Regions from separate parts of the Homo sapiens genome. Here region 2 is linked to region 1. Evidence: fine-mapped expression QTL. A gene starts in region 1. The other region holds a variant in brackets. All regions are shown on one strand. Distances are between the middles of the regions. Region 1 holds the start of TIMP1 (TIMP metallopeptidase inhibitor 1). Region 2 overlaps SYN1 (synapsin I).

The links. PIP is the estimated chance that this variant, and not a neighbour inherited with it, causes the effect.
Region 2: its variant is fine-mapped to the expression of TIMP1 in whole blood (TOPMed, PIP above 0.99).

What each region holds. Positions count from the first base shown.
Region 1 is chrX:47,577,048-47,585,795 of GRCh38, reverse strand. It overlaps TIMP1 (TIMP metallopeptidase inhibitor 1), which reads right to left and starts at 3,360. Exons shown (of 6, transcript NM_003254.3): 1 at 3,322-3,360; 2 at 2,260-2,388; 3 at 781-860; 4 at 465-591; 5 at 129-253. The coding sequence starts at 2,380. SYN1 (synapsin I) reads left to right here. Exons shown (of 13, transcript NM_006950.3): 6 at 8,295-8,357. RefSeq lists silencers at 3,403-3,502, 3,563-3,712, 6,043-6,216, a cis regulatory region at 5,830-6,350 and an enhancer at 8,052-8,346.
Region 2 is chrX:47,603,306-47,612,546 of GRCh38, reverse strand. SYN1 (synapsin I) reads left to right here. Exons shown (of 13, transcript NM_006950.3): 2 at 5,349-5,406; 3 at 5,511-5,602; 4 at 7,168-7,324; 5 at 7,480-7,569. Among named protein-coding and RNA genes, the nearest start is that of SYN1, 12 kb to the left of the region's middle. The variant C/T (reference allele first, on the strand shown) is at 4,546.

The sequences.
Region 1 (8,748 bases):
ACAGCCCTTAGGGTTGGGGAGCAGCCACAGGGACACAGAATAGCCAGAGGGAGCAAGAAACAAGCCCACGATTTAGGGAATGGCCCCGGGAAGGATCTCCCGTTGGAGGTCAGGGTCCAGGCACTCACTGTGCATTCCTCACAGCCAACAGTGTAGGTCTTGGTGAAGCCCCGGCGCTGAGCTAAGCTCAGGCTGTTCCAGGGAGCCACAAAACTGCAGGTAGTGATGTGCAAGAGTCCATCCTGCAGTTTTCCTAAGGAGAAAGGCGGGGCGGGGACCGACAAGCAGCTTGTGATTGGCTGAGCTGCCAAGCTGCCAAAGGCCCGGCCTTCTGATAGACTGAAATTGGGGTGGTCCCCATTTCCAGTGGGACCATTCCCATCAGAGCCTCGCCCCCTCGTGGTTGCTAGGCCGCGCCCCAGGGACTGGTTGGTGTGGCACAGGGCGCGGGGACGGTGCCTCACCAGCAATGAGAAACTCCTCGCTGCGGTTGTGGGACCTGTGGAAGTATCCGCAGACACTCTCCATGGCGGGGGTGTAGACGAACCGGATGTCAGCGGCATCCCCTAAGGCTTGGAACCCTTTATACATCTGTTGATGGATGAGGGGAAGTGTCTCTTTTACTGACATAATCCTCCCACTCCAGGTTCTTCCCTGAAGTCATATAGCATCCCAAGATCACAGCCAACTTTCTCGCACCAACCAGTGGCCAGAAGTTTCTGTTTTGACCAGGAGGAAGATGTTAGAAAATGCTGGGAAAGAGGCGGGGGCAGGGGATACCTTGGTCATCTTGATCTCATAACGCTGGTATAAGGTGGTCTGGTTGACTTCTGGTGTCCCCACGAACTTGGCCCTGATGACTGCAGGAGAGGAGGGAAATATGAGTCAAATGGACTGCATGAGCCAATAAAAATAAGATCATCATCATCATCATCATCATACCAGCAAAGCGCATACATAAATAGGGGTTATTGGATGCCAGACAGCACACAAAGTGATTTACACATTTGTTCATTGATTCATCTGTATGTTGAGTGTCTCTCTTTGCCGGGCACTGCTTAAGCCATTTTCATACATTGATTTGTTCATTTACTCCTCAAATATTTGGGAGTGCCCACTGTGTGCCAGACATTGTTCTGGGTGTTAGGGACACAACAGTGAACAAAACACAGAAATCCCTTTCCTTGTGGAGTTCACATTCTAGCCAGGAGGAGACAGGCTAAGAACAAACAAAATAAGGATATGGAATGTTAGACATTAAGTATAATGGGGAATTACAGACCTGGGTAAGGGGCTGACAAAGATTCTTTGCTTGACCAAACTTTACTCAGGCTCCTGAACCTCCTCCTAGGCCCATCTGTGCACTTCCTTGTAAAATCCAGTTTTAGCCGAGAGCCTTGCTAAGTCAGTTTAGCAAGAACCCCTATATTCTATATCTGATCATCCTCAATCTCTGATCATCCTCAATACCTGATCATCCTCAATCTCTGATCATCCTCAATACCTGATCATCCTCAATCTCTGATCATCCTCAATACCTGATCATCCTCAATCTCTGATCATCCTCAATCTCTGATCATCCTCAATACCTGATCATCCTTGCTATCTGACTGGGTTCTTCATCTTCCACCATCCCCCAGGTGATGTCTGATTCCCCTTGGCCTGCCTTCAGCAAGAATCCTGTTACGTCGGTTTAGCCAGAATCCCCCTTACCCCTGATGTTTCTTCTTAGTAATTTCCACCCACAGACCCTCACACTGCTCCTTAGCTACACATTCCCACTGGCCCATGCTATATTCAGTGTTGAGCCCAATCTCTCCCACCGACTGCAAGATCCCATTGCAGTGGTTCCTATACCCATCACCATGGTCCTGAATATGGTCTTCCTTACTGTGTTATAACAAGTATCACTGAATATTTTTCTGTTTAACAGGAGATCAGGAGTACTAAGGGGCAGGGGTTAAAATTTTAAACAGGATGGCCAGGGAAGGCCATCCTGAGAAGGTGACGTTTGAGGCAGCCACCCATGTGGATACCTGGGGGGAAAGTGTACCAGGCAGAGGGAGCAGCCAGCATGCAGATCCTGTGGTGGGCTTGGGCACAGAGTACTCAAGGAAGTGTGAGGATGCCAGTGTGGCTAAAGCAGAGGAAGTGCAGGGGCGAGTGGAATCATTCTAGAGGTAAGTGCCATGGTGAGCCCCACTGGACTGAAAGGGAAACCAAGGCAGAGTGTGTGGGCTGAGTGGGGTGAGGACTCACCGAGGTCGGAATTGCAGAAGGCCGTCTGTGGGTGGGGTGGGACACAGGTGCAGGCCCTGCTGGGGGCTATCAGCCACAGCAACAACAGGATGCCAGAAGCCAGGGGCTCAAAGGGGGCCATGGTGGGTTCTGTGGGGAAGGGGGATGTCAGGCAGGCCCCGGCCCAGCTGATCTGCTGACCTGGGCAGGTCATCCACCCCATCTTGCCCCGGGGCAGCCTATGGGGGGGATTAGGGGGCTGGATTTGGGCTTGAGGGGTTGGTAAGCTTAGGGATTTTAAGGGGATTGGGGAGCGCAGAGGAATTTAGGGTTTAGAGAGTTGGGAGAGTTTAAATTATTGAGGGACTGAGTGAGTTGCGGGGTTATGGGGTTGTGGCACTTGGGGGAGAAGGGGGCTGAGGAAGTTTGAGGAATGAGGGGATTGGGGAATTCTGGAGGTTGAGGAGTTTGGGGGTGAGGAATTTGGGATTGGGGGCTGGAGGAGTTTGGAGACGGCAGAGTTTAGGGGTTGTGTATATTAAGAGATATAAGAGGCTGGGGGAATTTAGGGAGGTTGAGGAATTTGGAGGAGGTTGGGGGTTTAGGGAGCTGGGGGAGTTTGGAGGTTGAAGGGGTTGGGGGAATTTGGGGGCTTAAGGCAATGGGGATACTTGAGGAATTTGAGGGCAAAAGAAGTTTGGGAGCTGGGGAACTGGGGATTGGGGAGCTGGGGGAGTTTAGGGAGCTGCAGGGGTTAGCGGTGGGTATTTAGGGGGCGATGAGGGAAATTTCGGGATGAAGGAATTTGCGGGGGGATTTGGAAAGCATTTGTGATATTAGGGGGTCATGGGTTTGGGGGAATTGGGGGCGGATGTCAGGGGTTCTAGGGAGTTTGGAGCCTCGGGGTTGGGAAAGCAGTTCCAGCCTCCGACCCTCTTCCCCCTAGACTAGCCCAGGGTCCTGGTACCCGCAGGCCAAGCTGAGTAGACAGGCATCTGGCACGGGAGTGCACGGGCCTGGTGGCCAGCACCCAAGCTGCAGCCCAGCTCCGGTCCCTGCTGGGCCACCCCGGGCCCTGCTTACCTCTGGTGTCTCTCTGGGCGCTGGATCTGCGGCGATGGCGGCAGGGCCTGAGCGCTAGAGGATAAATGTCCACGCTAGGGGCGGGGGTGGCAGCGGGTGCGGAAACCACAGGCCTCCAGGCTTCCTGGATGCATTACTCATCCACCCACCATCAGTGCAGAAGCCAAGGGGCGGGCCGACGAAAGGAGATACACCCTCCTCCTCTCCCACCCGCCTCCTCTCCCTCTCCCTGGGCCTCGCCCGGGCCAGCCACCTCCCCCACCTCCACGTCAGTCACTATTCCTTCCAAGCCGCCTCAGCGGAGAGCTTAGAGGCCGCATTTCCCCCGGCCCAGTCCCCTAAAGTCTCCAGAATCTATCCAATCACCCACATCCCCCAAGCTCCCTATGACTCAAACCCAAATTAGTTCAGCCCTTCAACATTTATTGTGCATCTACTGTGTGCCAAGCACACAAAAATCCCTTGTTTTGTATGTCTGACATGCTGGTGAGGGGTGGCAGAGAGGAAACAAATTAAGTAGCAGCAGTGGAGGGAGATAAGGCAGGTGAAAGGGGAGGAATACAAAATGGGGAAACTGAGGCACGGAGTGGTTAAGTGACTTACCCAGGATCACAGAGTCAATACATGGCAGAACTGAGACTGGAACTCAGGTGGCCAGGAGCCAAAGCCAGGGTCTCAAATAACACAGGCAAATAGCCGGCATTTATACAGCACCTACTGTATACCAGGCACTCAGCATAGTTTATCTCACTCAAAGCTCACAACAAATCTCTGAGATGGGTACCGGTTCTTATTCCCGTTTTACGGATGAGGAAATATGGGGCGTAGAGGAACTGTAGAATTTTCCTAAGATCACAGGGCATGGCCGGGATTCAAACAGAGGCTACCTGGCACCAGGGTTGTAACTCAGGAGTGGCACCGTCCTAGCAAGCAGGGAATGGTGCGGGTGAATGAATGAGCATTGGGAAGGGGGTGGCCATGAATGATGGTGAAAGAAGCAAGTGAGTGGGTCAGTAGAAAACTAATCCCCACCCCATCCTGCCCTGCCCCCTCCCCATGGACCTGTACCCCTGGTGGGGGGTGGGGTGGGGCAATCCTTGCCCACCAGCTTTCTGACAATGCAGGAACCTTCCCTGGGGTTCTGATTAACATCCTTAATTCGAGGAGGATAGATCAATAATAATAATTGTAGTGATGATGGCAGCCACTTATTGAGCACTTTCTGTGTACTATGTGCTAAAGTGTTTGTATAAATTATCTCATTCACTCACCATACTCCCTTGCTAATTAAGTTTGATTAACTCAGGGATGATAGCCCAATAACAAGAACACAACAAAAACTACCAGCAGCCCTTATGGAGTGCTTACTGCGTATCCAGCACTATTCTGGGTGGGAGGAATGTGAGGGATGAGAAATTGCCTAATGGGTACAATGTACACTATTTGGTTGATGGGGACACTAAAAGCCCAGACTTCACCACTATGTAATATATCCATGTCACAAAACTGCAGCTGTACCCTCTAAATCTATTTTTTTTTTTTGACAAGAGTCTTGCTCTGTCACCTAGGCTGGAGTGCAGTGGCGCGATCTCAGCTCACTGCAACCTCCGCCTCCGGGGTTCAAGAGATTCTCCTGTCTCAGCCTCCTGAGTAGCTGGGATTACAGCCACACCACCACCACCCCCAGCTAATTTTTGTAGTTTTAGTAGAGACGGGGGTTTCACCATATTGGTCAGATCTCGAACTCCTGACTTCAGGTGATCCACCTGCCTCGACCTCCCAAAGTGTTGGGATTACAGGCGTGAGCCACCACACCCGGCCTTCTAAATCTTTTTTTTTTTTTTAGACAGAGTTTCGATCTTGTTTCCCAGGCTGGAGTGCAATGGCAAGATCTTGGCTCACTGCAACCTCCACCTCCTGGGTTCAAGCAATTCTCCTGCCTCAGCCTCCTCAGTAGCTGGGGTTACAGGCACACGCCACCACGCCTGGCTAATTTTTGTATTTTTAGTAGAGACGGGGTTTCACCATGTTGGCCAGGCTGGTCTCAAACTCCTGACCTCGGGTGATCCGCCCACCTCAGCCTCCCAAAGTGCTGCGATTACATGCGTGAGCTACGGCACCCAGCCTAAATCTATTTTTTAAGAAAGCACTTGGCCGGGCATGGTGGCTCACACCTGTAATCCCAGCACTTTGGGAGGCTGAGGCAGGCAGATCGCTTGAGCTCAGGAGTTCAAGACCAGTCTGGGCAACATGGTGAAACCCTGTCTCTATTTAAAAAAAAAAAAAAAAGCACTGTTCTAAAGTCTTTTTACAGACATTATCTCATTTAATCAATCCCGATTGCCTCTTTGTTCATTAATGTTAGTTAAGGAAGAGATGTTAAGCCAATAATAAGAGTACCCAACACTTCTTGAGGATCGAGGCTTACTGTATGCCCGATACCATGTAGAGCATTTTTCCCAAAATAACTAACTTATTTCTCACAATATCCCTGTGAGTTAGATATAGCTCATGTTCTCATTATACAGATGAGGAAACTTAGACACAAAAGGGCTGAGTGACCTACCCAGGAATGAGAATGAAGAAATGGCTCTGCTGCGGGGTGGTGGGGGGAGGGTGGGGGGGCGACAAAAACAGGGAGGAAGGGAAGTAAACCAAAAAAATCTGTAGGAGCTGATTATGAAAGTGGGACAGTGAGAGTGAATGAGACGGGGCTGAGTAACCTGGTGCCTCCGAGGGAGAAGTGAGGGCAGGGGAAGTCCTGCCTTGGCCCCTCGCTGACTCTGGTTCTGACGCCAACTCTTTGAAACCTGAGTCAGCACAGAGTGTTGCCGACTGTTTACATGAGGAGTCGTGTGGATCCGGTTATTGTGCAGTTTTGAAATGGAGAGTGGGAGGGGTGTTCATGGAGGGGTGTGTGACCATCTGGGGAGCTGGATGGGTGTGGGGGCCCATGGGGGTCCAGGAGGCATGTGCAAAGCGGACACCTGACAATGCCCACAGCATACCAGGTGCTTGGGCCTCATTGTGCTCTTTGTGCAGATGGGGAAACTGAGGCTCAGGGAGAGGTTGTGTCCTTCATGGCCTTAGGAAGAAGAAAGGCCAAAATTCAGACCTAGGGCTTTCCAGGAGCTCCCAGAGTCAGAGTTCAAAGCACTCTGCATGCACACATGTATGGGCACACACACATATACAGAGCGTTGTGTTCAGGCTCAAGTCCAGAGAAAACAAGGACAGTTAACGAAAAGAGGCACCTAGAAACCTCAGGGTTGTTGGGGGAGGTATGGGTGTGTACGCACAGCTCTCTGGTGTGTTGTGTGTCCATTGCTAAGAGTCGAGCATGTGCCTGTGTGTTTTGTGTGTTACTTCTGGGAGTTGTCTACCAGCCTCGGCAAAGCGGATCTGGGTTGCATATGTAACTGAGTGCATTATGCACTTCTGTGTGCTGTGCGCACACCTGGGTGGTACTGTATGCATCCGCCTCGGCATCGTTTCCCTGGCCCGCTGCCCAGAGATGCCCCAAACCCCCGTCCCAACATCGTGCCTCTCAGCCCACCTCATAATGACGCCAGTCATTTGGGAAATGAGGAAGGGGGGGTGTGCAGAGGGAGGCCTTAAGGTCAATCGGTCACCCTGAGTCTGCGGGCTTCCTGTGCCTGTCGGGAACTGGGAACCACCACCGCCCCAGCAGCCCCTCCGGGAATGCCATCTCTCTACCTTGTCAGCGAGAGGGAGGGCCACCAGAGGGGCACTGTGCAGCTGTGCTGTGGGGGTGGGGGTGGAGGGAGCGGGGAGCCTAGGGCCGTCCAACCTGGTTTCCTCTACCCCATCCAGGAGCGGGGGAGACTTGAGGTATCCCTCTCGCCTGAATGTGTGACTGTATGTGTGTTGGGGTGGGAGTGCCCAGGAATGTTTTCTGCAAACTGAGTTGTGGGTGTCTCTGGTTGTGTGTAGCCTCTCTGTATTGTATATGTGGCAAGGCATGTTGTGTGTGTGTCTAGATATACTTTTTGTATGCCCAGGAATGTGGCGTGGGTCTCTTACGGGTCCCAGTGGTGATGTGAATACCTAGAAGTGCATACACCTCTGTGTGTTGTGTAGGGCCTTATTTGCTGTGCATTTGCCTAGGGGTGTTTTATGTGTGCCTGTGTGTTGAGTATGTGCCCGGTTCTGTGGAGTGTGCCTGTGGAGTTGTGTGTCTCTTGATTGGACGGGTAATCTTTTGTGTTGTGTGTGTTCCCCTGATGGTGATGTGGGTTTGGGTGAGGGGAGGGAACCTGGGTGTGTGCCCAAGTATTGATTGTGTGCCTAAGGGTGTCCAGTGTGTGCTGCCCTGGAGTGCTGGCTGCTGACCCACGCTATGGGCACCTGGCTGGCTGAATGACTGTGTGGGTGTCTGTGCTGCTCCAGAGCTCATGTGCTTTGAGCCTGTGTTGGCTGTCAGTCTCAATGTCACTGGCATCTCTGGGTTTGGCGATGTACATCTGAGTTCCAAGGGCTCATGCCTCTCAATAGTTTATGTGTGCAGGTGAGGCTTACATACAAGGTTTGGCTGAGGGGTTCAGTCACTACATGCTCACCACCACTCCCCACCCCCCCCACCCCCACACACACGCACTGGCACACACTTGCCTCACTATCATCCATCCACTGTAAAAACAAACTTTCTTTTTACTGGAACAGTCCCCCACGCTCATACCATGCCTCTGCCCGGGAAAGCAGGGGCGGGACGTCTGGAACTTGTTGGTGGGGTGGAGTGAGGGACAGACAGACAGGGCTCTGGGTTCAATTCTGGGCCCGGAGGTGGAGACACTGTGTGACCCCCAGCTGCTGCCTGCCTGTCTCTGACCTGTGTGTCCTGGGAAGTGACTCATAATGCAGTTCCCACTGGCTGGGATCCCCTCAGTGCCGCCCCACCCCTGGAGGTCACCCTTTCTGCCCTGAGCATGTCTCCTCTGCCTTTTCCCCACCAGCTCAGCAGTACAACGTACCCCGTGGTTGTGAAGATGGGGCACGCACACTCTGGGATGGGCAAGGTGAGTCTCTGGCTGGGCTGTGCATAGGTAGATGTGTATTTGTGCAATGCACACCAGTCATTCTGTGTGATCGCGTCTCCTGGGGTGTCGTTATCTATCAGGTTGGTGCAAAAGTAATTGCGGGTTTTGCCAGTTCTTATGGTAAAAACCACAATTACTTTTGCACCAACCTAATAGATTTTTGTTTTCTCACATTCAGCTGACCTCATCGACCCCTTTTTCCTCCTGCATTCAGCCAATTTTGTGTGTCCTGTTATTTTGCTTGTCTCCAGCATCGTGTCTGTGTGTACATGCATGCCTGTGCCGAACACACATGATGTGGTGTGATCTTTTATGTTCCAAAGTCTTGGGGTCCTGTGTGCTTTACATCCATCTGATTTTGTCTCTGTGT
Region 2 (9,241 bases), 27 kb before region 1:
AGACAACCAATTTGTGAACCAAGCTTAGACCTTTCCCTCTTTCATCAGCTAGTTTTAAGGAGTCCCCTTAGTGAGACAGGCACTAGCACAACAGTGTGGAAGACATGGGGATCAGGGTTACTTACCTGCTCATGCACCTTGCTTGGTTCTGCTTGGGCTCAATCCTGACTGCTGGGCCCACCTGACTTTATTATTTGGCGGGCCCAGCAGGACCCAGCTTATAATGGGAACTTCTGGATGCACAATCATTTGGTGCCTGGTCAAGCATTCTGTCTCTATCAGGGCCCAGCACCTCAATGGGGTGTCTTTCTCAAAAGGCGTAAAATTCTCTGCTGCAGATGGCATGGCTTTGCTCCAGAACCCCAAGGGCCTCCCACTCAGGCTTCCCATAAGCTCCTCACTGCATCTTTCCCCACTACTGACACCTCCAGTATCATAAGATCTGCCAGATCATCTGGCCTAAATGGCAGGACTGCTTGTACCACAGCCTGGACCTGCTGCAGAGCCCTTTTCTGCTCTGGCCCTCACACAAAGCTGGTAGCTTTACATGTCGCCTGGAATATGGGTCAGAGCATTATTTGTGTGTGGGGGACATGCTGCCTCCAGAATGGGAAGAGGCCTCCTAGGTATTGTGCTTTCCTCTTCATGGTGGAAGGTGCGTGATTCAATGCTTTGCTCTATTCTTTGGAGGGGCTGTCCTGGTTTACTGCCCTGGACCACTGGATTCCTAAAAATTTTACTAATGCATCGGTCCCCTGAGTCTTTGTGGAGTTTATCCTCCACCCTCTGTAGTGGATGTGTCTTACCAGGGCAATATGCTCACCCTCTCTTGCTCATCTTGCACAATCAGTATGATGTAATCCATGTGGTGGTCCAGTGTGCTATTCCATGGGATGTCCAGATAGTCCAGGTTTCTCTGGACTATATTATGACACCAGGTGAGAGAGATAGCATAGCCCTACAGCAAGACCATCTATGAATATTATCATCAGTCTCATGTGAGTGTAAACTGTTTCTGATCCTTTTTTCTAATCAGAATAAAAAAGAATGCATTTGCCAAGTCAGCAGCCACCTGCTGTACCTGAGGTCTTATTAATCTGCTCTGGCAATGACAGCGTGTCCAGTATGGCAGGTATAACTAAGGGTACTACTTGATTGTGCTTGCAGTAATCTGCAAGCATTCTCCAGGACCCATCTGACCTCTCCAGGGGCCAGACTGCTCAACTCGATGGAGATAAGATGAGACCAACACCCCTGCATCCTTTAGATCTTTCAATGTGGCATTGATTTCCATCATCACCCATAGGATGCACACAATATTGTTTGTGGTTTATTGTTTTGTTCAGGGCATGGGGGTGTGCGCCATTTTAGAAGCTTCTATTTGGACTTCCCTACTGAAACAGCTCTTATCCCACAGGCTGAGGAGCCCATGTAGGGGTTCTGACAACTACAAAGTATGCCATTGCAATTACGCATTTGTGAACTGAGGAAGTGACCACTGGGTGGGTCTCTAGACCCACCAGACCCACTGTAAGCAGGACCTGGGCCAGGACTCATTTATCACCTTACCACTACTGTGCTTCTCAGCGTGACTGGTACCACCCTCACCAGCATGTTTCTTATTAATTTCATAAGTTGAGTGTATCCTCCAGGCCTTAATCAGCTGGTGGGTTTTCCAGACTTCAGTAGTATATCTACTCCAACATGTCTGCTTCTTTGAGCCCTTTAATCCTTCCCTGTGCAATCTGCCATGGAAGTTCTGCTTCACTTAGTGTGGGCCATTGTTTACTCCAGGTTTCCAAATACCAGTGTGTTAGTAACACTTCCTAGAGTCCTCGCCAGGGTTTTAAGTTCCGTATCCTGGGAGAGCACACCAACTTCCTGTTCTACCTCCTTCGCCCATTGTCCTCAGGATCCAGTCTCATGCATACCTTCCCAGCTCCTGCCAATACGTACTAGCCAGATTCTTTAGGTTCTTCTACAGATCATTTCTCTCCCTTTGCAAGCCTAGAACCTGTCCAGTCAGGTTTCACTAGGATTTCACCCTAATTTTTGGTCTGGTTTCCAGGAGGGTAGGTGGGGGGTAGACTCTGAGGGGGGCAGGCATTGTCTTACAAAGCACCTGCATCATCCGAGGCCTCTGCATTATCTTCAAGCAGAAGGTCTATATTCTAACTCAGGGGAGTAGTCTACTTCAGCAGGCCCAGTGGATGCAGGTGAGTCTGTAAGTTCAAGGTGTTTAACTGCATCTGCCCAGATATCCCCATCTCAGAGTCCTACTCCTGTCCTATTAGGGACATGAGCATGGCCCAGGAGATGTGCTGGGCCTGAGAAGTCAACTTTCTCCGAAGCTCCGCCACCACGTAGAATTAAATTCTGAGCCTGGCCCTCCCTTCTGTCTGCCCTCTGACTGCAGGAGATGAGGGTTTCCTTAAATGCAGTCAGGGAGATCCTCTGGCTTTCACATTTTGCCTTGAATTCACCCTGAGCATGTCAGGTCTTTCTTCAGCTACTCAATGGCGTTTAGGGAATAGTCACCCAAGTCTGGTTACCATTTCCCTGACATCACTCAAGTTCCAGGGATATTTCACCATCCAGTACATTCCCTTCCACCAGAATCCCATTACAGCCCACCATCAGGAAAAGTCACCGCTACTCCAAAACCCTGGGGGCCTGCGCTGTATTCTCCCACCTGGGAGAAGAAATTCCACACAGCATCTTTTCCTACTACTGACACCTCCAGTGTCATAGGATCTGCTGGATCATATGGCCTAAGTCACATCCTGCTTGCACCACAGCCCGGACCTGCTGCAGAGCACTTTGCGTTGCTACAGCATATCGGAGGCTATCTATGCCCCACCTCCCACTACTGATGGGTCCTCACTGCCATCTGGCTGCTGGGTAACCCAGCTCCAGAATTGCATTAGACCACCCTTGTAGTTTGACTTCCATGGCCCACTGTTTTAGGTTGGGTTCCCTGGAAAAAGACTTTGAGGTGGAGATTTGCATGCAGGAGGCTTACTGGAGTGTGCCATTGGGATCAACACTTGTGAGGAGGGTTGGGTTGAGCAGAGGAAGAGGCTGGCTCAAGATGTAGTTGCCTTAGGGGCCTCCGCTGCTCTTAGGGGGAGCCCTGGGGCTGGGAGGGTCCTTCAGAGTCAGCCCAGATTGAGGCAAGGAGGCTGGCCTTTCTTTCCCTTCATAGACCAGACCATGGGGATGCCCTCATGAAGTAGGTGTAACCTTGGACAAGGCAGTTCCCTGTGACAAGACAATTCCCAGTGGGGACACAGCCATGAGCTGTCAGTAGCTGCCATTCAAGGTACATTGTCCCTGAAGAGGAGGCCTGAGCAGACCACCACAGTATCCAACTACACTTATGGTCAGAAAAGTTTTAGAAACAGTGATACACCCTCATCATCCCCACTCATCAGTTTATAGATGAAAAATGTGCAGGGCTGAGAGAGATTCTCTCTCAACACTTCTGAGGGGATAGTGTCAGCGATGGTGTGTGTGTGTGTGTGTGTGTGTGTGTGTGTGTCAGAGAGAGAGCAAGGAAAAAGAAGTAGCTGTACTTGGGGTCTCTTGCATATGTCAGTCAAGTCACCAGGGTCCATTTGTGCCGTGTGTGTGTGTGTGTGTGTGTGTGTGTGTGTGTGTCTGTCCAAGACCCTGATTGTATGTGTGTCAGTGACCAGTAGCCCTGAAAGTGTCTCTCCCCCTCATCCCCCTTCCATGATAAACCTGATTGAGGATGAGCTTCCATCCCTGGAGCAAGCAGCCTGTTGGCTAGAAATCTTGAGCCTGGGGGAGGAGGCCACCGGAAACCAAGCCCAGCTGGGGACGGGCCCGGGGACAATGACATAGCAGTTCGTGATGTTCCTACTGCTGCTCCCACTCCCCCTCCCTCCTGTTGCTCCCTCTCCTCCTCAGCTGCATTCCTCCCTGCCCCCCATCATTGCCAGCTACACTGGCTTCTCTAGAGCCACCCAGCCTGCACCACTCAATCCACTCCTCCTTATCGGATGCAGCTGCCCACCTATGGCCATTGTGTTTCTCACAGCACACAACCACACATGGTGAATGTGCTCCTCCTTGCGAAAGGGCCAGAGAGCAGAGAGATGCTTCAGGCCACACAGCCAGACACAGGCACTGACATATACACAGGCACTAAAAAATACACAAAAACAGGCACGCTTCAGAGAAATGTAGTTTCTTTCTCTCCTTCCTTCCTTCCTTCCCCTTCCTTCCTTCCCCTTCCTTCCTTCCTTCCTTCCTTCCTTCCTTCCTTCCTTCCTTCCTTCCTTCCTTCCTTCCTTCCTTTCTCTTTATTTCTTTCTCTTTTTTGCCTAGGTCTTGCTCTGTTCCCCAAGCTGGAGTGCAGTGGTGCAATCACGGCTCACTACAGCCTCGACCTCCTGGGCTCAAGCCATTCTCCTGCCTCAGCCTCCCCAGTAGCTGGGACTACAGGCATGCACCACTATGCCTGGCTAGTTTTTGTTTTTTGGGTTTTTTGGAGATGGAGTCTCGCTCTTGTTGCCCAGG[C/T]TGGAGTGTAATAGCACCATTTTGGCTCACTGCAACTTCCGCCTCCTGGGTCCAAGTGATTCTCCTGCCTCAGCCTCCCAAGTAGCTGGGAATACAGGCATGCACCACTACACCTGGCTAATTTTGTATTTTAGTAGAGAAGGGGTTTCACCATGTTGGTCAGGCTGGTCTCGAACTCTTGACCTCAGGTGATCCACCCGCCTTGGCCTCTCAAAGTTGTGGGATTATAGACGTGAGCCACAGCCCTCGGCTTTTGTTTTTTTTTTTTTTTTTTCAATTTTTTTTGTAGAGATGGGGGTCTCTCTATATTGTCCAGGGTGGTCTCCAACCCTTGGCCTGAAGCAATCCTCCTACCTCCAGCCTCCCAAAGTGCTGAGATTACAGGCGTAAGCCACCGTACCTGGCCAGATAGGTGTTTTCTAAGGTTCTTTGCTGTTTACCGGTCTCCATGCAATTTCAAAGTATGTTCTAATTTACATAGTGCTGCTAATTTTGTGAAGTTTTTTTAAAAAATTTACAATGACAATGTGATGAGCAGACTAAATTTTGGGAAATACCTGCTCTCTGCAGTGTAAGGCCACATTTTACAGTTTGCAATGTCCTTTAATATTTTTGCAACTCCATGAGGATTACAACAGACATTATTCACAAAGCACTCTTGATTTTTTCAAAATATTTCAATAATTATAAGGCACTTTGTGGTTTCTTTAGTAGCATTGAAGGGGCAAAAGGGTCAAGGGCCTGTGTTTTGTCTTCCCTTCTGAGATTTCATCATTGACAGATGTGTTGTTTTTCCTCTCCAGGGCAAAATACTTCAAAGGGAAAAAGATCCATGGAGAAATTGACATTAAAGTAGAACAGGTAAGTTGGGACATTTGGACCTGGGGGTCAGTTGTCCATACTGCAAACTGAGTGGCCATTTTTGTGTGATGTAGGTGAATCACCAGTTTTTTTCTCCTTCCCAGGCCGAATTCTCTGATCTCAACCTTGTGGCCCATGCCAATGGTGGATTCTCTGTGGATATGGAAGTTCTTCGGAATGGGGTGAAGGTCGTGCGGTGAGTATAAGAAGGGTACCTTGGTGTTATGAGCAAGGCATAAGAACTCTCCCTTAGAGCTGGGGGAAAGTTCCTACCTCCCCACCCATCCTTCTGTGGGCAAGAACTTAGGCATGGAATGTGGGGAGACAACTTTTCTTCAGAAAAAGAGCCAGGGACCCCAGGATGCCACAAGTCAGACTTTAAAAAAAAATATATATATATATATATATATTTCAGACAGGGTCTTGCTCTGTCTCCCAGGCTGGAGTGCACTGGCACAATCATGGCTCTCTGCAGCTGCAACCTCTCAGGCTCAAGTGATCCTCCCACCTCAGCCTCCCAAGTAGCTGAGACTACAGGTGCGCACCACCATGCCTAGCTAATTTTTATGTTTTTTGTAGAGATGGGGGGGGTCCTCACTATGTTGCCCAGGTTTGTCTCAAACTTCTGGGCTCAAACAATCTACCTGCCTTGTCCTCTCAAAGTGCTGGGATTACAGGCATGAGCCGCCACACCCAGCCTTCAATTATTAATTAAATAAACATTTGCTAGACATCTGCTGCATGCCAGATGCTGCTCTCAGGACTTCATATTCAATAAATATTTATTGTACACCTACTGTGTGCCAGGAGATATTCTACATGCTGAAAGGCCAAAAAAAAAAAAAGAAAAAGAACCTGGGCCTTATGAAACTTACATTCTACTGTGAGATACACACAATACACAAATAAATAAGAAAATGTAAAAGTGCTAAGAAAAAACATAACAGTGGCCGGATGTGGTGGCTCATGCCTATAATCCCAGCACTTTGGGAGGCCAAGGTGGGTGGATTGCTTGAGCCCAGGAGTTCAAAATCAGCCTGGCCAACATGGTGAAACCCCGTCTCTACTAAAAATAAAAAAATTAGCCAGGCGTGGTGGCAGGTGCCTGTAATCCCAGCTACTCGGGAGGCTGAGGCAGGGAAATCGCTTGAACCCGAGAGGCGGAGATTACAGTGAGCCATGATTGCTCCAGCGCCTGGACAACAGAGCAACAGTCCGTCTCAACAGAAAAAAAAAAAAGAAAAAAATATATATATAGCACTAAAGCAGATGTAGCAATTGTTGGATGATGGTGGGGTCTGCAGTTGGGATAGGGTGGCCTGGTTGCAGGAGAGACATTTGAGGAAAGACCTGATGGAGGTGAAGGAGTGATCCATGCAGATATCTAGGGGGGAAGTGCTTTAGGCAGATGGAACAGCCTTGGTAAAGGTCCCAAGGTTAGAATTTATTCTGGGCAGAACACTGAAGACAGCTTGCAGTCTGAGAGATGGTGACCAGGGAGTTGTCAGAGCTGTGTCGGTAAGCTGCAAGCTGACCTTGCTGAGAAGGGAACAGGTAGGAGAGGCTTAAAGGGGATCACCAGGTGGGCAGAGGGTAGAAAGGGTGCACTAGGCAGAGGGAACAGCTCACACATGTGTGCAGAGGTGAGAAACCACTTTGCAATTTCTGGGAGCTATGGAGATTTAAAAACTTGGTCTTTGTTTCGAGAGTGATTGGGAGCTTCTGGGGGAACTCTCAACACTCCTACCCCTGCCACACTAGGTCTCTGAAGCCGGATTTTGTGCTGATCCGCCAGCACGCCTTCAGCATGGCACGCAACGGAGACTACCGCAGTTTGGTCATTGGGCTGCAGTATGCTGGAATCCCCAGTGTTAACTCCTTGCATTCTGTCTACAACTTCTGTGACAAGCCCTGGGTGGTAAGTAACAGGAAGGGTGCCACTGGCAGAGGGAACAGCTCATGCATGTATGTGGGAGCTTGAAACCAGTCTGCGATTTGGGGAAGTGAGGGTGTTCAGAAACTTACAGATTCGTGGTGAAGGACTCACTGACCCAGCTCTCCTGGTTCTCATAGTTTGCCCAGATGGTTCGACTGCATAAGAAACTGGGGACAGAAGAATTCCCTCTAATTGATCAGACCTTCTACCCCAATCACAAAGAAATGGTGAGTTTGGGGAAAATAGAGTGGGCAGGAGGGAAGAGTCATAACTACTGCAATAATATTAAATATTGGTATATTATCAGCAGTGCGATATCAAGAGTGTGGCTGCTGTGTGCACGTGGAGTCATGAAGTTGCTTTGTGATAGGGTCTACCGTGAATTTCCTTATGCTTACAAGGAAAACTAAATCATGATCCATTCTAATATGTATCAGATCCTGTTACTCATGTTGTCTATTTTTGCCAGTATTAAAAACCTATTTCTAATGTGAATTGACAGAATTAATGTAATGAATCAGAATATATTACATATAGAAATTAAGTCATTATTACTAACATTATCAAATATTCCTTCTGATAGAAATTTTACCTATATTCAAATTAGGATTGCCAATAACATTTATCAATAATAATGTTATAAATTAAATTGTTGGCAAGGCACGGTGGCTCATGCCTGTAATCCCAGCACTTTGAGAGGCTGAGGTGAGCAGATCATGAGGTCAGGAGATCAAGACCAGCCTGGTCAACATAATGAGACCCCGTCTCTACTAAAAATACAAAAATTAGCTGGGCATGGTGGTGCGTGCCTGTAGTCCCAGCTACTTGGGAGGCTGAGGCAGGAGAATCACTTGAACCCGGGAGTTGGAGGTTGCAGTGACCAGAGATCACGCCACTGCACTCCAGCTTGGGCAACAGAGTCCCACCTCAGCCTCCCTCCTATTAATTAATTAATAGAAATTGAACTTTTGGTTACTATTATGAAATATAATCACTGGCCGGGCGCGGTGGCTCATGCCTGTAATCCCAACACTTCGGGAGGCCGAAGTGGGCGGATCACCTGAGGTCGGGAGTTTGAGACCAGCCTGACCAACATGGAGAAACCCTGTCTCTACTAAAAAAATACAAAATTAGCCCGGCGTGGTGGTGCATGCCTGTAATCCCAGCTACCTGGGAAGTTGAGGCAGGGGAATCGCTGGAACCCGGGAGGCGGAGGTTGTGGTGAGCCAAGATCACGCTATTACACTCCAGCTTGGGCAACAAGAGCGAAACTCCATCTCAAAAAAAAAAAAAAAAAATATATATATATATATAATCACTAATATTACAAATTATCACTAATATTATAAATTATTTTTACTGTTGTAAATTATGAGTACCTATGTCATGAATTAAATTATAGTTTCTAGTAGAAATTGAATAATCATTACTAATAGCATCAAAGATTATTGCTGTTATTACAAATGATTATTGCTATTACAAATTATGCTCTAATATAAATTATAAGTACCTGTTTTGACTTACATAAACATGGCATGCAGTGGAGACTACCACAGTTGGGTCATTGGGCTACAATGTGCCAGAATAAAATATGCTGAACGTTTAAATAATAGAAATTGAATTATCATTGCTAATATCATCAAATATAACAACTAATATTACAATGCATTACAGTGTTACAAATTAAGTTTATTACTATAAATGATTAGTACTTATGTTGTAAATTGTTATAATTATTTTTTAAAAATTTAAACCCAAAGTGGGAGGATCTCGTGAGCCCAGGAGTTTGAGACCAGCCTGGGCAACATAGCGAGACCCCATTTCTACAAAAAATTTAAAAATCAGCCCGGCATGGTGGCATACACCTGTAGTCCCAGCTACTTGGGAAGCTGAGGTGGG